Regions from separate parts of the Homo sapiens genome. Here region 1 is linked to region 2. The links come from fine-mapping of genetic effects on gene expression. Tissue or cell type: whole blood. Region 2 holds a variant in brackets; the other region holds the start of a gene. All regions are shown on one strand. Distances are from middle to middle.

Evidence for each region. PIP is the estimated chance that this variant, and not a neighbour inherited with it, causes the effect.
Region 1: MTHFS starts here. The variant in region 2 is fine-mapped to the expression of MTHFS in whole blood (TOPMed, PIP above 0.99).

The regions. Positions count from the first base shown.
Region 1 is chr15:79,894,231-79,899,377 of GRCh38, forward strand. It overlaps MTHFS (methenyltetrahydrofolate synthetase), which reads right to left and starts at 2,784. Exons shown (of 3, transcript NM_006441.4): 1 at 2,642-2,784. The coding sequence starts at 2,758. All of the region lies in intron 2 of ST20-MTHFS (ST20-MTHFS readthrough), which reads right to left. ST20 (suppressor of tumorigenicity 20) reads right to left here. Exons shown (of 3, transcript NR_037653.2): 3 at 4,612-4,895. RefSeq lists a silencer at 2,793-3,092 and an enhancer at 3,233-3,282.
Region 2 is chr15:79,919,015-79,924,338 of GRCh38, forward strand. It overlaps ST20-MTHFS (ST20-MTHFS readthrough), which reads right to left and starts at 4,078. Exons shown (of 4, transcript NM_001199760.2): 1 at 4,025-4,078. It overlaps ST20 (suppressor of tumorigenicity 20), which reads right to left and starts at 4,738. Exons shown (of 3, transcript NR_037653.2): 1 at 4,438-4,738. ST20-AS1 (ST20 antisense RNA 1) reads left to right here and starts at 3,757. Exons shown (of 1, transcript NR_028330.1): 1 at 3,757-5,324. RefSeq lists silencers at 3,896-4,005, 4,026-4,095, 4,106-4,155, 4,776-4,925 and enhancers at 4,456-4,635, 5,066-5,115, 5,317-5,324. The variant T/C (reference allele first, on the strand shown) is at 3,210.

The sequences.
Region 1 (5,147 bases), 25 kb before region 2:
ATTAGCTGAGCATGGCGGCACGTGCCTGTAATCCCAGCTACTTGGGAGGCTGAGGCAGGAGAATCGCTTGAACGTGGGAGGCAGAGGTTGCAGTGAGCCGAGATCATGCCACCGCACTCCAGCCTGGGCGACAGAGCAAGACTCTGTCTTGAAAAAAAAAGAAAATATTAAATTTCATTGTATGTGCTTAAGAGCTGTAAAATGTTCCTTGTATGTGTATATTTGTTTGTACAGAGTAAAATGTATTTATTACTGAGGGTCATGGGTCTGCTTTTTAATTTTTCTCTCTCCTCCTTTAATGCCAGCTCTCAGTCGTCATTCTATTGCTGTCAGTGACTCTGTATCTATGTAAACTATTTCCATCTATAGTTTATGAATTCTAATCTTCTACGGAGAAAGACAACGTAGAAGATTAGAAACTGAATTCATCTTTATTTTCCCCATGCCCCTCCAAAATTTGTTCCAATTCCTACCTTCTTTATGCCTAAGGCTAAACACCATTATACCAAGCTCTAAATTTTGGAATCACTGGTGACTCTCCTCCCCTTCCAGTATTCTCTAACCTCTTCCAATCAGTTGCCAAGTCCTGCTGTTTCTCACTTAACAGTCTCCCATTTGCCTCCTTTCCCCTCATCTTCACTGCCCATGCTCTGGTTTGCATATTTTTCATCTTTCACTTGAATTGGCACAACAGCCCCTTACTGGTCTCCATATTTTTTTTCTTTCTTCCTTCCTCAACCCATTATCCAAATGCTGCCATTATACTCTTCCTAAAGGACATAACAAACAATAGGTAAAGCTCTGAATACATCCCTTTACACACTTCTTTAACTCTCACAATCGACCTACAAGAGTGATATTATCCATTTTATAGACAAGGAACCAAAGGTTCTGAGAGATTATGAGACCTGTCCAAGGATATACAGTTAAAAAACAATGGCGCCAGATTCAGCCCAGATCTGTGCAGTTCCAAAGCCCATGCTAAACTGTATCCTGTCATCTCTTGCCTAAATATCCCTACTCACACTCCCCTATCCCATCTTTCCCTTCACCTGAAAGAATTCATCTTGTTCTCCGAAATTCATCTCAAACATTTTCCAATAGAAAGCTTTCCAATTTCCCCTCCCCAAGGCTATGTTTCCACAACATTGGTGTTTACCTTTATCATATATCTGGCTTCAATGCAATTCTTTATTCATGTCTGTTTCCTCTTCTAGGCTCTCTGCTCCTTTAGAGCAACAATCATATCTTTTTCATCTCCACAACCCAGTATATAGCCAAGTGTGCACTACATAGGTGTTCAACATATGTGAATGAATTAGCTAAATTTTAAACAACTAGATAGTAAGGACAAGAGTCTATATCCTTTACATCTACTAAAACACCCAGCAATGCTTCCTCATAATAGCTAAAATAATTCTGTTTGAACGAACGAATTAACATCTGTATAGATTCCCTCATACACACCTACATAGATGAAGAGAGGGGTGAAATGAGCATATATGCTTTACTGCTTTAACCCATAGGCACCTTGAATTTGAGTAAATAACGGATAATAGAATAGTGAAGGGTAATTAAGAAAGCCTGATGGTATAACTAATTCCAAGGAACATCAAGTTTCCAAATATCTGGTGTCTCTGAAGCATGATGCTGGGAAGACAGATCATCAGTTTGACTTACAACAGAATTACAAATACGTACTTATTCAGGGGACATTAAATTTTTCTTCCTCTGGTGTCTAACAAAAATGAGTCCCCAAAAACTCTTTAGAACATGCCTTCACAACAGGATATGACTGCCATTTTATTGATAAGAAAACTGACATTACATAGACTAAAAATACATAGCAGTGCAGTTGGTGAAAGTAATGAAACAGAGGTCTGCTAACCAACAAACACGGACCCTCACTTATTCCTCTCATTTCTCTCTTCTGTTTCCTACGTTCTTGGGAAGCCTGGATATGATAGCCAAGTCTTCCTTTCGTTCACTCAAGAAAAAGCATTTAATGTTGACCAACTCTGAGACAGGAAAAGCCTAGGCCCTGGAGCTACTGAGACACAGCCTTAGCCCTCCATATGCTTAGTGAAGTCCAGTCAACCTCTGAGTTCTGCCCTTTGGCATCTCCACACCTTTTTTGGTGTTCCCTCGTCTAAAGCACCTGCATCTTTCTCTGGCCATTTTACTAATATAACCGGAGTCTTACTCGTAGCTCATTAACTTTAGGCCTCACTGAGGGAACCTGGGCACTCAGGTGTTCACCCATCTCCTCTACCACAACTTTCTGTTCTCACCGTGCTCTCACCACAGCACCGTCATCCCCACGGAGGGTTTTCGAGCACCAAAAGAGCCACCCATGCAAACAAACTCCCCTCCCAGAGATAAATCTGTCAACCCCTGCCGTCCTCTCGCTCTTTAGCCCCACAACTTTCACTACCGGGCCCTCTCCCCGCCATAGTGCCAAGAGCGTCCAGACCACGACTAGGGGGCGTGCGCGCGCCGGGAGGGGAAACGTGCGCGCGCCGGGGGGTGGGGGGGCGCCTAGCCCAGCGCCAGCACGGACCATGCACAGATCAGCAATCGCTGGCCGCCAGGCCTTCGGAGGGTCTGTCCGCCGCGGCTTCCGCTACGGGCGGCCTCGCACCTTCTGGCTCAGTACGCGGGACTGGCGTAGCCGCTCCTCGGCACTCATCGCCCGCAGACGCTGCTTCAGCTCTCCCCGCAGGCTCCGCTTGGCGCTGCTCACCGCTGCCGCCGCCATCTCACGCCCAAGCCGAGTCCAGTCCCGCCCTCGGCGCCCTGGGCGCCCTCGGGTTCGGTCTCCGCCCCTGGCCGCTCCCAGGTGGATCCGCGGCCTAGGGGCGGGTCGGGGCTCGGGGAAGCGCCCCCACCCCGCTTCCGGGACGCGGGCCCGCGGCGCGCCGCGCGCTTACCTCGCCTCTGGCCCTTGGGACCCAGCCCTCGTGCGGTCCCCGTGGTCCGGCTCGCCCTCCCCGGTTAGGGGAGCGGTGGCGAGGCGCCGTCGCTGCCCTGCCGCCTGACCTCCCTGAGCCTGGGCCCTCACCGGGACCGCGGAGGCGGCAGCGCCACTGGCGGGGATGGTAAAGATGGCCGGCAGTACCCACGGTGCCTGGCATCTCTTGTACTGTTCAGTAGTGGGACTTCAGGGGCCAGAAAAGAAGGGCAAGGCAGGACATGTAGCGAAATCGTCACGAGTCGCTTAACTACAGGGATAGGTCTGACAGATGCCCCGATTTCCTTCTTGTGCAAACATCAGAGTGTAGTTACACAAAGTTACTACACACCTATGCTACACACCTGTACAGCGTATTTTGTACCGAATACTGTAGGCAATTGTAAGCACCGTGATACTTGTGTATCTAAACACAGAAAAGGTAATGTGTTGGTTGGCTACCACATCAGTAGGTATTAGGAATTTTTCAGCTCCATTATAATCTTAAGGGACCACAGTGGTTGATGGAAATGTCCTTATGTGATGAATGTATAGATGATACATAATCGGGAACACTGCTAAAGCAATAACTGTAGTGTAAAAGCCAAATTTTGCGGGTTTCTAGTGTGAATGTATTCCAGGTAATAGTGCCCACATAGGTACTTCCTGTTATAACCATCAGTGACTGTTCATTCCCACCACTCAGCTCTGATTAAAACACAAAAATGAATTAAAACTAAAAGCAGTTGGGGGGTGGGTGAGGCACTTGCAGGAAGAGGTAAAAGAAACTGTTAAGTCTTAAACTGCTCCCAGTAGACAGGCGCCTCAGATGGCATAGACGGTTGCCTCTCAGATGTGACTTCCTAAGAAAACCAGAGCTGTCTCTGCCAAAAATACGTCCCTACTGACCGCCCCAGTGTCTTAATCCCCACCGTTAAGAATCACACCTCCTAGGTAAAGCATTAATTAAGTGCCCGGTGAGAATGCACATGGCTTGAGAGGGGAGTTCTGGCTTCTTTATGGAATCTATCAACAGCTTCCAGGGAAAGCTAATGCAAGTCCCAGGGGGACTGTGTTGTAAGAAAAAGGGAAGGCCAGGCAGGTACAGCGTATACATAGTGCAATTAGATTTGCTGACCTAAAAGTTAGAACACGAGGTCTAACAAACTACGTACTTTTCTAATCTGTTCATTTTTACCAAAAAATAAAAATTAAAATTAACACTAGCTCCACGTTGAATCATTTACCAATTTTCTTTGTTCAGAATATCCCAGAGTATCCTGCATATCAGGTTGCCATATCCATCAACCCCAAATGGCAAGCCAGAGAGAGAAGGCTGGGGAGGAGGCATCAATGGAAACTCTTAAGCAGCCAGGGGCACTGGAAACTGCAGAAAGCATGGGAAGGAAGGAGGGAAGAGGGAAGCCGACCTGAGTCTGCTTCTAGCCTGAGTCCGCTTCTCAGTCTAGTCTGCAGTCTAGCCTAGTGACACAGAAAAGGACTTTTGGGGTAATGGCACACCTTAAAAGTCTGCCTGGGGCAGAAAAGACACCGCCTTCCTGGTCATCATCCCATAATTAATTGCCTGGATCCTGTGTTGAGCTTTTACCCTTTGGCTGAATTTCCAGCCAGACTCCAAAACTGAAGACAAAAATGGCATATAGAGAAAAATACATACAATTTATTCATTAAATAGGGACAAAATTTCTGTAACTCTGGAAGGTCAAGTTACATCATCAAAGTTGTTTATTTAAAAGTAGAAGTATGTGTTGGCAATCGTTTTCGTAAGAGTCAGAAAAATTAGGCCGGTTTCACAATATGGAGTGTCCTTTCTGGTCAACAGTATTGCTTCAGGACAGAAGAGCATTTCACAGATCTTTCCTGTAACTTCTAGAAAAGTCATCCAGCCAGATTTAGGCTCAAGCTTCTTTACAAAGCCATTTTCCTATGAGAGAATAAATTTAACATTTTAAAAATCATTGGAGATTAAGTATGCTGGAATAAAAAGCAAAAATATTTTCATTTAAATAATGCAAATAATCTTCTATCCCTCTAAAGGAGCATTGTGTAACAGAAACACAGTGTGGCCTACATCTGTAATTTTAATTTTTGGTAGCCACATTTTAAAAAGTACAAAAATAGGAAAAATTAATTTTTAAGATATATTTAGTGATAATGATTTCTGTATGTAATCAAT
Region 2 (5,324 bases):
TCTGTGACTTTCTTTGATCTCTGTCTCTTTCAGTCTTTCACTTATTCTCTCCCTCTCATTTGGGCTCTTTTTCTGTCATCCCGTTTCCTCTTTCTCTTACACTTAGTCTTCTGGGCTGGGTGGGATCTGCATGGCCACAGTCCGGGCCACCGCCGCCGGCCTAGCGGCTAGGCAGATAGACGCCTGCCCCAAGTTGCATGAGTCATGCCCCTTCGCCTCCTTTGCTCTCCTCCCGGCACCGGTCCCTGCCCTCTTCCACACAGAGCCAGGCTGGGGAGAGGGACCCACCCTCTGGCGCGCCTGGCTGCCTGGCTGCGTGGCACAGGCTCCTGGCTCCGGTGCGCTCATTGTCTCCCACTCGGCTCCAACTTGCAGGTGTCCGTGGCCAGCTAGCCTCTGAGGGTGGCAGGATGCACCCGAGCAGCACGGAAGGTGCGGGGCTCGGGGGCCAGCAGCCTGGGTGGCTCTGGCTGGCTCTGGCTGGCTCGGCCGGGAGTGAGGAGAGTGTCTCAGCCACTGCCGCTCTGCCAGGTGCCAGCAATCCACAACAATGTGGAGCCACGTTCGCTGCTCTTGCTTTCTCTGACTTCCTTTCCTAGTTTCTCTTTCTTCTCTGCTGCTCTTTCCCTTGCCTCTTTCTTCCCCCAAGAATAGGGGAAAGGGAAGTTTTGAACATTTTTCCTATGACCGGAAGTTTCTGTGAGGTTCAATCTCCCCCTAATGGGGATTTTTCACCTCTTTTTAACCTCCAAGACACCTCGACTAAGGAATACTTCACCACCCCCGCCCCCCCTCCCCGCGGCTTTTCTTTCCTTAGTCCTAAGGAATGCTTTACCTTGGTATGTCCCAACCAAAGAATGCTTCACTGCCCTGTGGCTTCTTTTTCCTTAGTCCTGACCACCAAGGAAGTATTTTACTGTCTCCCCTGGCATTTCCTTTCTTGGTCTGTGCAGAGTTGCCTGGTCCAGGTGGTATGTGAGGATCTTTTACTCCAGGTCACCAGCCGGTTTCTTTCCACATTGCTGAGAGTCCAGTTTATTTGTCATAACTGGTGGGTCTCGATTCCTTACCCTGAGGCCGCTACAACAAGGCAGTGGGGCGCCTTCCTCATGAGAGAGGACCAGAGACCCACCCCCCCACCCCCGGAGGAGAATGGCTCCCTGTACAGGCCACCGCCATTGTTACAAGTAAAATGTTTATTTAGAAACAGAATGCTTGCTCCTAGGTACTGCAAGGAAAAACCAGCATTTAGACAAAAAGTTTTTTCAGCAAGGCAATTTTACTTTCTGCAGAAAGGGTGCTCCTCACAGATGAAACAATGGTGACAGCACACCCGAACAAAGGAGGGAAGCAGTTTTTATCCCTTATGCAGCTTGTGTCCTGTCTCCATTGGCTGGAGCTGGACCTCACAATTTAAATTAAACCCGACTGGCTAATAACTTAAAACTTTCCTATATAGGGAAAGGCAATAGAGAACAAAGGAAAAGAAGAAGTTGCTTGCAAAAAGACTTAGAAAAGTAATAATATTTCCAAATAAGGAAGGGGCATAGGCTGCAAGCTGGAACGTGCCTGTGAGCATGTCCAGCACAAATATCTTGGTTAAAGTACAAGGACATAGAATATACTTATTCCCTTATATCTAACAGCTACATAGGATAGGGCTTAATGAAGAGTCATTAGCACAGAGCAGAGGAGGCTTGAAGGAAGTTAGTCTTTAAAAGAAACTATTATTTCTAACACTTATGATTTATTCTTTAACAAGAAAGGAAATTTCGAAAAGGAAACTTTTTACTTTCTACAGGCTGATGAGTGCAGCTAATCCTCATTATTATAAGCATCACTATTATCATCACTTGCAAGAGCCATGTGACAATATTTAGATGATTCTGGGTTCTTTTAAAGTGCATACATACTCAGGATTCCTTTGGGAGGATGCAATTTCATTTATATGAAAAACTGTCACTACCACAGTCAGCTCTAATAATATTTGATATCACCTGGTAATAAAGGTTTGTCGGCTGGGTGCGGTGGCTCACGCAGCACTTTGGGAGGCCAAGGCGGGCAGATCACGAGGTCTGGAGTTCGAGACCAGCCTGGCCAGTATGGTGAAACTCCATCTCTACTAAAAACACAAAAATTAGCTGGGCATGGGGGTGGGCACCTGCAGTCCCAGCTACTTGGGAGGCTGGGGCAGAAGAATTGCTTGAACCTGGGAGGCGGAGGTTGCAGTGAGCTGAGATCATGCCACTGCACTCCAGCCAGGGCAACAGAGCGAGACTCCGTCTCAAAAAAAAAAAAAAATAGTAAATAAAAAATAAAGGTTTGTCACCATATACTCAAGAGTACTTCTGTTATTCAAATCTCCTAACTGGGAGTTACAAATATCTCTGACTCTGCTCTTGTAGCTGTCAGAGCATAAAATGCCCTTCCCACTCTTTCCTCACTTCCAGACTCCAAAGCCTCCTCCTCAAAGTTTGGCCCCTCTACTTTGGACTACTGTTTTCTTCCCAGTTACTGCGCACTGACAGTACTTTTGTTCTCTCTTTCGGCAATTCACCATACACTTTCTAGTTTATTTATCTGCATAAAACTTAGTTCTCAACAAGACTATAACTGCCTTATGAACAGGAATCAACAGTTGAGAATCTTCAGAGTCTCCTATAACATCATGTAAGAGCTCACTAAATGTTTGATTTAAATAACTAGGCTTAAGAGTAATAGGCTGGGCATGGTGGCTCATGCCTGTAATCCCAGCTCTTTGGAAGGCCGAGGCGGGAGGATCACGAGGTCAGATCGAGGCCATCCTGGCTAACACGGTGAAACCCGTCTCTTCTAAAAATACGAAAACAAAAAATTAGCAGGGAGTGGTGGCCAGTGCCTGTAGTCCCAACTACTCGGGAGGCTGAGGCAGGAGAACGGTGTGAACCCAGGAGGCGGAGCTTGCAGTAAGCCAAGATCTCAACAGTGCTAAATGCATACATGGATTATCTTACTAAATTTTCATAACTCTATAGAGGTAAGTGCTATCATTATTTTCTCCATCATAGAGGAAGAAAGTGAAGCTCAGAATAACTTGCTCAAGGTCATACAGGCCTGGGCAAACCCAGGGCCTGAATCCAGCAAAGCTCTTAACTACCTCAGAACACTGCACAGTTCGAGCCCTGCAATACTACAGTCTATGAATGATTTCGATTTCACTAAGTTAGAAA[T/C]TTGAATTTCAACAGAGACATTTTAGCTAAAAGGTAAAATTTTAAAGAGGATGAATTAAGAGAATTTCCCACAGACATCTTTATAATAAAATGAGGAGAAAAGCCTCCCATTTCCTATTTATGAAAGTGATATTAAGGTGTGTGTCACAATTTCATCAAGAAGTGGCTTATGACAATACAGCTTTGGTTTAGGTATTAAAATAGGACTCTTTTCTGCCCATAGGAGGACATGGAAATGAAGGATAGATGTGATAAATGTCAATTCAGAGCTCTGCAAAATGCCAGACTCAATTCTTGTTTTAAAATATCAGAGCCAGGGCTCTTGTTTCACCCTTGATTCTTCACACAAAACACCACCATCCTCTGACCTCTTCACACAGAGCAAGCTTTACCCCACTACCTAAAGGGGAGTGCTGATCCACATGGTCTCCCCATCCACGCTAGAAATTGATCCCAAACACCAACCGCTGCATAGACGTCGGCGACTTTGGTCTGCACCCCCCGAACTTGGTGATACCTCATCAAGCCAAACCCCTCCCCAACATCCAAAATGCCCAGACCAGCATCCGAAAGCTGGTCTCCTATACAAAGCAGAATCCCTGCCTACAAAGCAGTTTCCCACCTCCGACTCCTCCCCACGGCGAACAGCCCTTCTGGATCCAACCAACCCACCAACCCCAATAGGGCCCAGCACCCAGAGGGTCCACAATCCAGAGAAGGAGCTACAAGCCCTGTACTTGCAAGCCTCGAACCCCCAACTCCAACTGACCTCCCCTCTGCCAGAGCAAGACCACGAGTACCCGCCGAGAGCGGACCTGGCTGGCTACACAAAGCCAGGCGCCCGACCAGAGGGATCCTCCGGGACGTCCTCCGCCACCGGGGCGTCCCCGCCCAGCCCCGCCCGGCGCCCGGCGCTCACCAGCTCTCCTCCCCCTCCTCCTAGCCTGACAGACGCTCCAGGTCGTCTAGCAAGCCGCCCTCCCCCGCCGCCAGCAAGAAGGTGGCGTCTCGCAGCTCCTCGTTATTCGTCCGCCTCGGGTCCATCCGGCCCCGCCGCCCGACTTTGCGCTGAGACCCAAGGGGAAGCCCCGAGGGGACCCCGCGCCGTAGGAGGGAGTGGAGGAGCCGGCGAACCGCGATGGAGCCGGGGCCCAGCACAGCGCGAGCGGCTCCTCGGCTGTTCGTGCTGCTTCCCCAGCTTCTTCACCGGCACCTGCAGCTTCCGCACCTCCTGGTCCGCGTTCACGTTAGAGTTAACGTCCTCCATCCCGGCCCCGCTGCCTCCGCCGCCCGCGGCCCTCTCGCTCTCGCAGCAACAAGGGAAGAGCCGGAGGAAAGAGGCGTCCACGCCGCTCACTCCAGCCGAGGCCCCCGCATATAGCAGGGCCAGGCCCCGTCGCCAGGGTTCCCCCAGCGCGGGTCCCGAAGCACCGCTGGCCACAGATGAACCGCCTCCTCAGCGCAGGTCCGGGATTCGGGGAGGCAGCGCCAATATCCGGTCTCTGCAGCCATCTTCCCTCCGTCCCTCCGCCCACCGAGGGTCGGCCCTGTAGGTGACCTCAGAGCGTCGGGGATGGGCGTGGCCCCGTCGGGCGCTAAGAAGACCTAGCGCAGAGAGGACCGCCGAGCTCCCGACGGGGCGGGGCCAGGTGTGTGAGGGGCGGGGATTGGACCCGGAGGGGCGTGTCTGGACTGCCGGCGGAAGTGGAACGCGGCCTGACCTGCGACGGAAAGCCACTGCAAGCCCGGAGGCGAACAGAAGGCATTCCGCGAGCCGGGCTGAGTTGGTGAACACGGTCCTCGTTCACCCCGCCTATTGGTCTGGGCGTGTGGGGTATTCTCCACCCACTTATACGGCGTGTGGGACCGACGGGCCCGTCCTGCCCGGCTCCGGTCCGGATCTCGAGTAGGCGCTCAATGGGATTCGGGGAGACGTAGTTTACTTTGTTCAGCAAATATTTAACCGATGCCTATTTTAATGGGAGATTGTTTCCGCTGGCGGGAGCCTCAGAGACCGCCTGTGTCCTTTAAGAAACCCGAATTTCAGACAGTTAAGAGAGGTCTAAGGTCAAAATAATAATCATAATTTCTTCTTACTGGCCAGATACTATGCTA